Linked DNA regions of Homo sapiens. The protein of the gene in region 3 interacts with the protein of the main gene of each other region in a biochemical or structural test. Each region holds a gene or a part of one and is shown on either strand. Other genes may lie near its edges.

The links.
Region 1: the proteins of HTT (region 3) and PFN2 form a complex in vitro, tested with the Homo sapiens proteins (one study listed by BioGRID).
Region 2: the proteins of HTT (region 3) and SH3GL3 form a complex in vitro, tested with the Homo sapiens proteins (2 studies listed by BioGRID and IntAct, with this or other methods).

The regions. Positions count from the first base shown.
Region 1 is NC_000003.12:149,968,963-149,972,711, forward strand, and holds the start of PFN2 (profilin-2), read right to left. Parts: upstream 1,934-3,749; 5' UTR 1,895-1,933; coding exon 1,763-1,894; intron 1-1,762. UniProt on the Homo sapiens protein: Binds to actin and affects the structure of the cytoskeleton. At high concentrations, profilin prevents the polymerization of actin, whereas it enhances it at low concentrations. By binding to PIP2, it inhibits the formation of IP3 and DG.
Region 2 is NC_000015.10:83,445,157-83,448,905, reverse strand, and holds the start of SH3GL3 (endophilin-A3), read right to left. Parts: upstream 1,566-3,749; 5' UTR 1,373-1,565; coding exon 1,328-1,372; intron 1-1,327. UniProt on the Homo sapiens protein: Implicated in endocytosis. May recruit other proteins to membranes with high curvature.
Region 3 is NC_000004.12:3,126,612-3,130,360, reverse strand, and holds part of HTT (huntingtin), read right to left. Parts: intron 3,098-3,749; coding exon 2,757-3,097; intron 438-2,756; coding exon 314-437; intron 57-313; coding exon 1-56.

The DNA.
Region 1 (3,749 bases), on a different chromosome or scaffold from region 3:
CCATTACAGTAAATCATGTTTCATCAAATTTAAAGTTGCTTCAAAGTCTCCCAAAATAAAGCCTGTTCTTTGATGTGTTCACTTCTCTGCTTAGAGTAACTAGAAATATACGTGATGAGATGGACTTCAACCCCTGGACATCAGTGCTTTTCCAAATTCATATTTCCCTCCTATTTTTCTAGCCACGACTCCCGTTTCTTTCCAACTTCCCTTCCCCTCCCATCTCAGTAATCAGTTTTCTTTCTGGGCAAACGCAAAGTGGATTCTGTCTACAGCACTGCGGTAGGCAATAGTAAAACAGAAAAAATGGAGGGAGATTGGGAAAGAAACTGAGGTAGCCACCAGAACCGGAAAGGAGAAAACGTGCATTCTAACATTCCATGAATAAGAAGGAAGGCGTCGCCCCCATCAGAACTGCAGAGTCATAGCAGGCCCCAGCCATTTCCAAGCACACTCCCGCAATCTTCCTAGTCAGACAGCGGGAACTCACACACAAAGACAAGAGGACTGCAGGAAAAAAGTTGATGACCAGATGCCAATTCCCTACAAGAATTGTAGTCCACTGCGGGTATACGAGACCTTAAAGTACTACTATCAAGGACTGAGTTCTAAAGTTAGACTTTAAACCATGTTAAGTGGTAAAAGAATAATTAGCACCCTTAATAGGGGACCTGAATTTTGGTGCTTAATGGAAAGGGAGCGTGGTGCTAAGAAATAAAGAGAATGGTCTCGTATTTAGTACAATTATCATAATTTTAGAAACAGCCTTGGGCAGAAACAGGCAAAACAATAAGCTGGAGGTTTTGTGGCAAATATTCTCCAAACATATTGCAACCAACTCAAAACCATCAAGTCTCAAGAAAATCAGGCAATGTGAAGCATAAAACTGCATTAGTTCCTTTACTGCCACCACTAAAGAGGGAGGGACTTAGAGAAGTGAAGTGTGCTCCTGGTCTTCGCAGATAATTGAAAGCCCCCGAAAAGCACCCCTTTTTTGAGCTATGTTGCATAACTGGGGATAACCGTATATCGATGAATCTCCATATGAGAAGAGAAATCAATGGCAGTTCGCCATCTTGGAGAATTTAAAAAAAAAAAAAAAACAACCTATAGAGCTAGAGCTGAAGTCGAGATTCACGAATCCACCTACGCGGTCGGCGTACATCTCTCGCAAGCCCCAGAGGCCTGGACATCGGTAAACCTACGCAAAGTCGCTTCGAGAATCCCGGGGGCCGGGCCGGGGCCGCCGCCTCCCACAGCCGGAGGCGCGGGAGGCGCGCTGTCCGCGGAGCAAGAGCCGGCCAGAGAGCCTAGGGACCTCCACCCGGGGCCCGCGCGCCCCAGCCCGGATCCCCGACCCCCGCTTCCACCCCAGAACGTGCATAGCAAACCTCAGGGCTTCAAGAGAACCTAGGGGAACCGCACTAGGAGGAAAAAAGGAACCCCTCCCCTTGCCCTGGCCGGTGCGTGCCCCCTCCCCCAACCCGGGCACCTGGACCGACGCTGGGAACGCCGGGGGCGCCCGGCCAGGGCCAGCAAGGAGTCCGGCCGCCGCCCCCAGCCTGTCAGCGCAGCCCCGGGTGAGGGGGCGTCCCCGGGCCTCGGCCTCCCCGCCCGCCCGGCAGCCGCATCCTCGGCGCCCGCTGCCTAGCACACCTGCGGGCTCGGCCCTCAGTGTTCCAGCCCCGCGCTGCGGTGCCCCCGCGGCCGGCCACCCCGCTCCGGTGCAGGGACCAGGGTACCGGCCGCCACTGGTCCTCACCGTAATGCTCTGAAAGACGCCCCCGGCCGTGGCTGCCCAGACGTATTTGGCGTCGCAGTAGCCGACAATGGCGGCCTCCTGGCAGCAGCCATCGCACATCAGGTTATCCACGTAGCTCTGCCAACCGGCCATCTTCGAGCCCTTCGCACTGCAGCGCGGACGGCGAGGAGCAGCAGGCGCAGCGGCGGCGGCGGCGGTAGCGGGCGGCGGCGGCGCGGGGGGAGGCGGGGCGGGGGCGGGGAGGAGGCGGCTCTGCGCAGGCACCGACCGCCCCCCTCCCCGAGGAGCTGCGGCGGGAGGACGCGGGTTCAGCGATGAGGGACGAACCTCAGAGCGCGCTCGGCCGCCCGGCCGCCCGCAGCCGCGGGGCTGACAAACCAGCGGCGGGAGGCTGCGAAGCGGCTGTGCCTGTGGCGGCTGCTCCTTACCGCAGCGCCCTCCGTTTTCCGCGGACACGGCTGGGCGTGCGCGCGCGCGTGCGTGCGATCCTTCCGCGGCGCCCGGGCACGGAGGGTCCCGGGAAGGGCGGGGGGAGACTGAGGCGGGGGCGCGGAGGGATACCGCCCCGGGACAATCACGGCCGCCACGTGCGGGAGGCGCCGGCCGGGAGCGGTGGCGGGCCGAGCTTCGGACCTCGGGCCGGCGGAGAGGGTGGACCCCGCGTCGCTCTCGGCACCCCAGGAACAGCGGCGGCACGGACGCCTTGGAGCCCCGCGGCCGGGCCGCGATGTGCTTTTCTCCTGTGTTCGCTGCCCGGGATGCGGAATCTTGAGCCTCGGTGTCGGGTTACAGAGTTGTCCTGGTGACGGGATGCGGAGCGTTTCCTCCTTTTTGTTGTGGGGGCGGCTGGTGGCAGGGGCAGCTGGTGGCAGGGTTGCCCACGCTAATCTCCGAGTCTCTAAGGGCACCGTCTTTCCTGGATCCCTCTTGCGCCTCGTCCATAAAGGCAGACCCGCGGGCGCGCGCCGGCAACCTGAAATCAGAGCAGGCGTCCGTGGCGCTCAGGAACCTTGCTGAGCTTCGCCGATCTTTCATTGTTGCTTCATTTGGGTACCAAGGGCCTCTCATTCTGTGGATTCTTTGCCTGGAGGAGCCCCCTTAATGTTGCTAATCACGTGTGGTTAAATTGCTCGTAAATTCCGAACAAAACAAATAGCGACCTGTGTTACACTGTTTCTTGGTAACTGGGAAAGTTACTGGTGGCTTGAAGTATACGCAGAAAATACAAAGATTAAAAACTAGGGAAGAGTTCACTGAATGAACACCGTAACATTTCTGCTCTGCAGGGTAAAATAATTTCGGGACCCAGGTCTGGGAAAGATTTGTATTAACAAGGTAAACGGTGGGTAGAGTGCCTGAGAAGCTATTCGTATCGTCTTTGGTAGCCTCTGGGCACTAGGACTAGACATGGAATTAGGGGTCCCCCAACAATGACTTCAATTTTAGGTTAATAGAAACCATCTGCCACTTAAGGGAAAGAAAGCACCAAAATGTAGATAAGTTGATGTTCACCCTTAAAGTTATCGTGTGAGGTCATGATTTGTAGGAGGATTAAGGAATGTATCTCTGGAAAGGGCAAGAACGTTGCTTTTAAAAGTCTAATTGGTTCTGAAGTTTTATATTTTTTCTGCTGATTGCTTTAAAATGTTCAGCTACTAGAGAGAAAAAAAGTACAGTAAAAGAAACCCCCAAGTCAGAGACCTATCAGACTGAGAATATGTATTTTCTCATGTTCTAAAGATACAGAATACCTGTGTGGTGTAAAATGTGAACCAAAAATTGTTTCATTTTTGTAAGTGTGCCTCCCACCTGATTTAATTACACTTAATTGTTCTTGTTTATGACTCTGCCTTTTATGGTGATGTTGATCATTTTAGTCCTTCGATCATAGCACTGTATCATCTTAAAAGTTAATAATAGATTACTTGTAACACAGGCTCACTATGTGAGAATTCATCAAGCTGTATGTACATTTATTGTGCTCTTC
Region 2 (3,749 bases), on a different chromosome or scaffold from region 3:
CCACCCTCACCTGAATAGCCTCTCCTCCAGGGCTCCTTAACACCTTGAATAGCACCACTGTCCACCCAGTGCCCCCAGCTAGAAACAGCATCACCCAGTTTCCATATGGAAAGAGTGTGAGTGAGGGGACAGCAGTGCCTTTCAGCCTGGAACTGGGGCTAGAAGAAGAGAATCTTCTAATTGCAGTTGCTTTCTATGGGCCAATTTGTGGGAGAAGCAGGATGAGACCTCACCACAAATGTGGACGTTGAATGAAATCTGTCTACCCTGGCTCTAGCAAAATGGGGGCTGGGGTTGCGGGGAGAGGTGGTGAGAAGCAACAGACCCAGCGGTGCTGGTGGGGAACAGGTTTTACAACGTGAGCTCTGCCATAGCTGGAAGAGCCTGCAATGTTGATGTTGAAAAACAAATTTGCTTGTCATCAACACACACACACACACACACACACACACACACACACACATCAATTTCATGTCTCCCCTCCTGTTTTCCTGTTTCCTCTGCTCAGAACGGCTTTCCTCCTATCATCCCACACCCTCAGCCATAATTCTTCCTCATACTTAATTCTCAAATGACATGTCTCCTCCTCCGGGAAGCTCTCCCTGACGCCCCCACTGTGTTATTTGTCATCCTCTGTGCGTGGAGGTGTGTCTAGCACTGTTTGTTTACGTGTCTGTCTCCGTGTCTCCCCTGCAGGCTGTCAGCTCTGTAAGAGCAGAAGCGTGATGCCCAGCCCCGGGCCGACACCGGGAAGACGGTGGGGAGGGGAAGGACCGCGGTAGAGAGCCCCAGCCGGGGAGCCGGGCACAGTCCAGACGGGGCCATTTCGATGCGCGCGCGGGGAGCTCAGCGGGACACAGCCAAGCGCCAAATACACAGCATCTCTGGAGGCGCCGGTGGCCGGTGGAGGATGGGCCCCCCACGAGGCTCTCCCAACCAAACGGCTGGAGACTCGGGGGAGGCCCTGCCGGCATCGTACTCCCTGTGGTCGTCCTCCCCTCGCGCGGGTAGGGGCCCCCCCACGCCCACTCCGTCTCCGCCTCCCGAGTCCCCGCGGCCGCCACCTCTGCCCTCCGCTCCGCAGAATCTCTCCGATTTACAACGGCCCAGGGCAGAGCCGGGGGCCAGGGAATGGGAAGGAGAAGGCGCCAAGACGCCGAGGAGAGAGCAGGCGGCCCCTCACCCCACCCTCGCGCCCTCCTAGGCGGGAAGAAATTGAGCCCCGAGAGAGGCCCTTCAGGGAACAGGAGTCCCAAAGGCCCGGGAGCCTCGGGGGGCCGCAGCCTCCGCGTCCCCCTCCCTCCTTCCCTCCTCTGCGCCTCCCTACCTGGCTGGCTTTGTGGAACTGCTTCTTCAGCCCGGCCACCGACATCGCGACTGCGACCGGCAGGGGCGGGGTGGTCTCAAGGCTCGGCTGGGCCACGCGGCCGCGACGCGCTCGGGGAGCGGGAGCCCGGGCCGGTCCCCCCGCGGCTGGGCTCCGCCGGGCCCGCCTCCCACGGCCACGGCCACAGCCACAGCCGCTGTCACACTCGCACACACGCGCGCACGCCGATGGCAACACTGCGTTCCAAAGCCCCTGCGCAGCCCATTGGCCAAGCCGCGGCGATATGCAAATGAAGCTGCTGGGGCCGCCCACGCTTCATTGTTGCGTGGAGACCTGGGCTACTTGAGCCGCGCAGAAGACCGGCCTGGGAAGCTGGGCGTGGGGATGTCCTGGGGGTCGGGGGAGTACAGTCACACAGTGCTTCTTGCTGGGCGCGGGACGATATAGATCTAGCTCTGAGATTGTCATGGGTACCGGGAGAGAGATCAGTTCTCTCTGCTTCTGTCTTGGTGCCGAACCGGCTTTGGCTCACAGGCAACATCGCCTCCCTCCGGCGCATTTTCGCTCGGTGTATGTTTAAGAAAGGAAGGCTCAGAAATGCGCCTAGGGAGGGACAACAAATGCAACTCGATGGGGGACCTGTGGTAGGAGGAAGCGGTCTGTGGGTGGCGGGCTTTCTTCTCTCTCCACGCGGTGCTCTGGGTGCAATCTGCTCAAATGATTTTGGTCTTCTGGGAGCCCTAGAGTTATGGAGTAATTTACTAATAAATACGGTGCTAGCTCACTTGGTGCTCTGAGCCCGCTGTCAACGGCACTAAAAGCAACCATCTCCAAGGTGCCATAAAGAGCTCGTTGCATATCCGGCGGAGTCCACCAGACCAGGAACCCAGCTCTCTCGGTAACCCCTACCAGCTGTGTCAGTTACAGAGTGTCCATTTGCACAGAGTCCAGAGGTCGACGCACTCACAGCTAAGCCCAGCCAGGGACATGGAGCATTGCGTTAACCTCGTGTTAGAGCTATCCCCAAAAGGTACAGCATCTTCGCTGAATCTGGCTTCCAAAGGTCCCGAGGATTCCCAAACCTAGAATATATGTTTGGCAACGCTTCACACTGAAAAACAAAAACATTTCCCACCTTCAGTCTCTTTTTGGGCCCTTAGCAGGTCCCATCTGGGGTGACGAGCAGTCCCTGTCTGCCCTGGACACTTCGGGTATATGCCTGTGCCCTGGTGTCCACCTGCCATAACATTTCTCCAGGACAAAAGTCATGCAGTTCCTCCCCTAGCTGTTAGCTCCCAGCGCCCAGTCGGGGCTAGTCCTAACCCTGACTTCATCCTAGTGAGGACTGGGCAAGTAAGTACACACCTCTCTGGGCCTTGGTTTCCTCACTTCTACTTGAAGCATGTAGACTGGAATAAACAGTGTTCCTCCTCTGATACTGGGGAAAAAATGCTTGAACTTAGTGGAGATCGTGGGATAAGGGCAGCCAGTCAGAGGGTTAATGAGCATGACTTGGGTGAGTGTTGTGGGCTTACCTGCCTGACACCAGCCACTGATAGATAACTAAAAAGTGTGAGGGTGGTGACAGCTGGGTCAGAATGGCGTAGCAAGATGACCTGTCCATACAACAGTTCAAATGCCTCTCAACAGTGGGCTTCACCGCAGGCCAACCACTACATAAGGCAGAGAGCCAGCTGCAGCTGGAGTCCAGGATTGGCAGGTCTCTCTTGTCCTAGGCTATTCAGGGCTGCTCAGCTTCCTCTTTCTCCATGCTCCAGAGAGGTTTAAATAGCACCGGTTCTATGGTACCTCCCCCTAGACCAATCCGGCTCTGTGCCCTTTGGGAGGAGGGGGGTGCTTTTTTTTCAAACAGTTTATTGGCATTTCCTCCACAGTCGTTAGTACATTCAAGTTTCTCACTTCAGTTGATTTTGGTAATTTATCTCCTTCATTAATCAAGTATAGAGTTGAAGATCATACTTTTTAAACTTCAGAATCTTTCATATACATTTTCTCCTTTGTAAAAGTTTTTGTGATTTGTCTTAATTTTTTCAGTGAATAGATTTATTGGAGGTTTGCTGATTTTATTGGTCTTTCAAAATATTTTTGAAGGTACTCATCATTGCTACAGATTTTTCTCTCTCATTGATTTTTCTTTCATTATTCTTACACATTCCTTCCTTCACTTTTGTTCAGAAGACTAGTGAGAGTTTGAGGGTTTTAACAATAGAAACTGACTCTAGCTAACATAAGCTGGAAAATATGTATTGGAGAAGGATGTCAGGCAGCCTGGAGATTCACAGGAGGGGTGTAGGGAACAAGGTGGAGGGGATGAGCAGGAATTAGGAATCTGAGCACTGAGATCCACAGGGTGTCCAGGAACAGCTTGATTGGGATATGCTGGCTCTGCCACTGAGCCCTG
Region 3 (3,749 bases):
GTCAGAAGGCTGCCTGCAGTGACTCATGTTTTTCAATAAATGTGCCTGTTGAAGGGCTTTAAAAACAGAGAAATCAAGATTAAGTGACAAATTTCCACTTAAAATACAATTATACATTTATGCTAAGATAACTCAAAAGTATAAGATTTAGATCAAGAAAAAGTATGATTATTCCTCAATTGGTCATTTTCATCAGCTATTCAGAACTCAGAAAACAGTATCAAAGGACTTCTTCTTGGAAGCAAAGATATAATTAAGATGTCCAGGTCTGAATACAAACCACTTTGTAGCGCATCACCTGTAGTCCACATACCCATGGAAGAGTTCCTGAAGGCCTCCGAGGCTTCATCAGGAAGAATACCTGTGGCTTCCTCATCTTCATCCTGGGGCTGTCCAATCTGCAGGCCCAAATACTGGTTGTCGGTACCGTCTAACACCTAAACGGTTCAAGGGGGGCTGTGAGAATTTTGAAGTGTGATCACCAAGAGACAAGCCCTCCAACATGGAAGTGCAATGAGGAAAGAGCACATTTTACACACAGAACACAAATGTACTCATCTGTCATTTATTTCAAGGCACAGAAATGCACGCATGGAAACTGCTAAGAGCTTACTGATCACTCATTCCCACTACATTATGAAAAGCTCTATTAGCTCTAAAAACTCCAAAAAAATTCCAATGTGGACATTTCTTTTTAATATGAAAAAGAAAAAACCCATACAAAAATATTTGTCTTCACAAACAAATTTTACAGCAAGTTGGAAATATGAGGACAAAGCTTTTCGACAAAAACCTAACAATATAACAGGTTATCTCCTAAATTGCAAAGACTAAATCTACTAAATTTAGGGTATGGTATTTCATATGTTTAGCCATCAGCTTGGGGCATGATTCCACATCACAAGATGTTTCATGTCCACTTGAAATGTCCTGTGTAATTTACCTAAAAAAACTGAACAATGGACTACCAGCAAATTATTACCAAAATACTATTTTATTAAGTTTGTTAACTACTATACTATTAAGTAAAACACTCAATGATATGAATGTTTTAAATTAAAATTGGAATGTAAAAGCAACTCCATTTCTGGGTATTTAGCCAAAAAAATGGAAAGCAGAGTCTCCAGGAGCTATCTGTACACCCACGTTCATAACAGCATGATTCACAATGGCTAAAACATGAAGCAATACAAGTGTCCATGGACAGAGGAATGGAAAAGCAAAATGTGGCCTATCCATACAATGGAATAGTATTTGGCCTGAAACATTAGGAAGTTCTAACATAGGCTACAACATGCATGAGCTTTGGGGACATTATGCTAAGTAAAACAAATACTGTGTGACTCCTAAAGTATATGAGAACCCAAAGTAGTCAAATTCAGAAGACAGAAAGAAGAATCGTGGTTGCCAGGGACTTGGCGGGAAAGGAGGAATAGAGTTCAATGGGAACAGAGCTTCAGTGTTACATGATCAAAAGGTTACAGAGATGGGTGGTAGCAATGATTCCATGACATTATTTAAATGTATTTAATACCAGCGAACTGTATACGCAAAAAATGGTTAAGAACATAAATTTTATGTTACACATATTTAACCACAGTTTTTAAAACTGAAAATAAAATGGAGTATAAAACTCAACATGGACTTGTAGCAAACATTATTAGACTATCCATGAGGGTTTTTTGTCCACTAACTTAGAGATGAGAAGTGCTTAAACCTATGCCGCTATCAAATGGGAAATGTTGTAAAAGTTTTTTGAAAAGTCAAAAGTTCTTAAAATAATGCACAGTATTAATCACATTTCATTAAGACCACAGATCTGTTTATAATAGGCTCCTTAAGGATTTTTAAAAATAATTATTTAACCAGGGCCCAACAAGGCCTTAAAAAATGTAAAATGCACTCAATTTTAGCAGAGTTCATATAATCAACTATTCCAATTTTTTACCTCAGTGTTCAACACAAAAGACACTAAGTTGTTTCCTTCAGTGAAGGTATCAGATGAGGTCAAGCTCTCCATTAATGATCTAAGCTGCGCTGTCAATAGGGGTATTAGATAACAAGAGAACAAGCAGGAGGGTTCAGGTCTAGGTCTCCAGGGAAGAACTCAAAAGATGGCAGGTGGCAGGGCCGGGCATGGTGGCTCACAACTATAATCCCAATACTTTAGGAGGCCAAGGTGGGTGGATCATCTAAGGTCAGGAGTTTGAGACCAGCCTGGCCAACATGGTGAAACCCTGTCTCTACTGAAAATACAAACATTAGCTGAGTGTGGTGGTGCCCACCTGTAATCCCACCTACTCAGGAGGCTGAGGCGGGAGAATCGCTCGAGCCTGGGAGGCAGAAGTTGCAGTGGGCTGAGAACGAGCCACTGCACTTTATTTTTTTATTTTTTTTGAAATGGAGTCTTGCTCTGTTGCCCGGGCTGGAGTGCAGTGTCACGATCTCGGCTCATTGCAACCTCTGCCTCCCAGGCTCAAGCAATTCTCCTGCCTCAGCCTCCCTAACAGCTGGGACTACAGACATGTGCCACCACGCCCAACTAATTTTTGTATTTTTAGTAGAGACAGGGTTTCACCATGTTGGCCAGGCTGGTCTCGAACTCCTGACCTCAAGTGATCCGCCTGCCTCAGTCTCCCAAAGTGCTGGGATTACAGGCATGAGCCCCTGTGCCCGGCCTCCACTGCACTATGGAGTGAGACTCTGTCTCAAATAAAAAATAAAAAAAAAGATGTCAGGCCCCTCTGCCCACTTACAATTTCAGAACTGTCTGAAGGGGTAACAGCTGAATCAGGCCCTTCGGTGGTGGTCTGGGAGCTGTCGCTGATGGGCGACGAGGCCTGGGTCCCATCATTCAGGTCCATGGCAGGGTCAGATGGGACGGCGCTGACCTGGCTGGAGCTGTGGCTCAAGATATCCTCCTCATCCCCATCAGTGGCAGAGCTTGTCAAGTCACAGCTGGCCAGATCCACTGAGTCCGCCTGCAGTGTGTGCTGTGACCGTGGCTGTTCTGTGATGATGTCATGACCTGCTGACCCTGGAGTGGAAACCCCTGAAGAAGCAGCCAGCTCTCCACTGATCTCATCCTTCACTGAGGCTGAAGACAGAGAAACACTCATTTGTCAAATGGCGAGAGAAAACATTCAATAGGGAATCACAGGCTTGCAAAATAACGAACAGTTCCACCGTTATCAAATGTTTCAGCTGCACAGCATCCTGAAGATGCTGAAATGCAGGACAGCAGTGCATCCTTCAAGCATCTCTCACACTGCCTCCCACTACAGTACCCACCTTATAAAATAAGGCTTATCAGAAGGTGATATTCTCAAATGCTGTTTCACTGCAAAAACCGAAGTTCAAGTTCTTAACCGACTACTCCAAGCCTTAGCTGGAGCAATATATAAAGACATTTGTAATTAAGGGGCAGCCTAGTCAGGGGCGCAAAGCTAGGCGGTCACAGACACGCAGGCCCTCTAAGCAAGCAGTGGTCAGAAACAACTGTCAACTCATCTCTCTGGGGTGGGCTTGCCTTCTTCCAAGCCACATTCAAGATCTCGACTCCAGTCCTATTCTCCTGGAAGATAAACCTGTAACACATTTTCCTAGTTGACTTTCTAAATTACCATTTAAAAACAAAAAAGGCTATATAAAAATTATGGCAAAAAGGTCGACATGAAGCTGTTGGCAGTGGTCACTCCTGGGGCAGTTGGGTCGGTAAGCATGTGAGCTTTATAGTATCCGGATTGCTG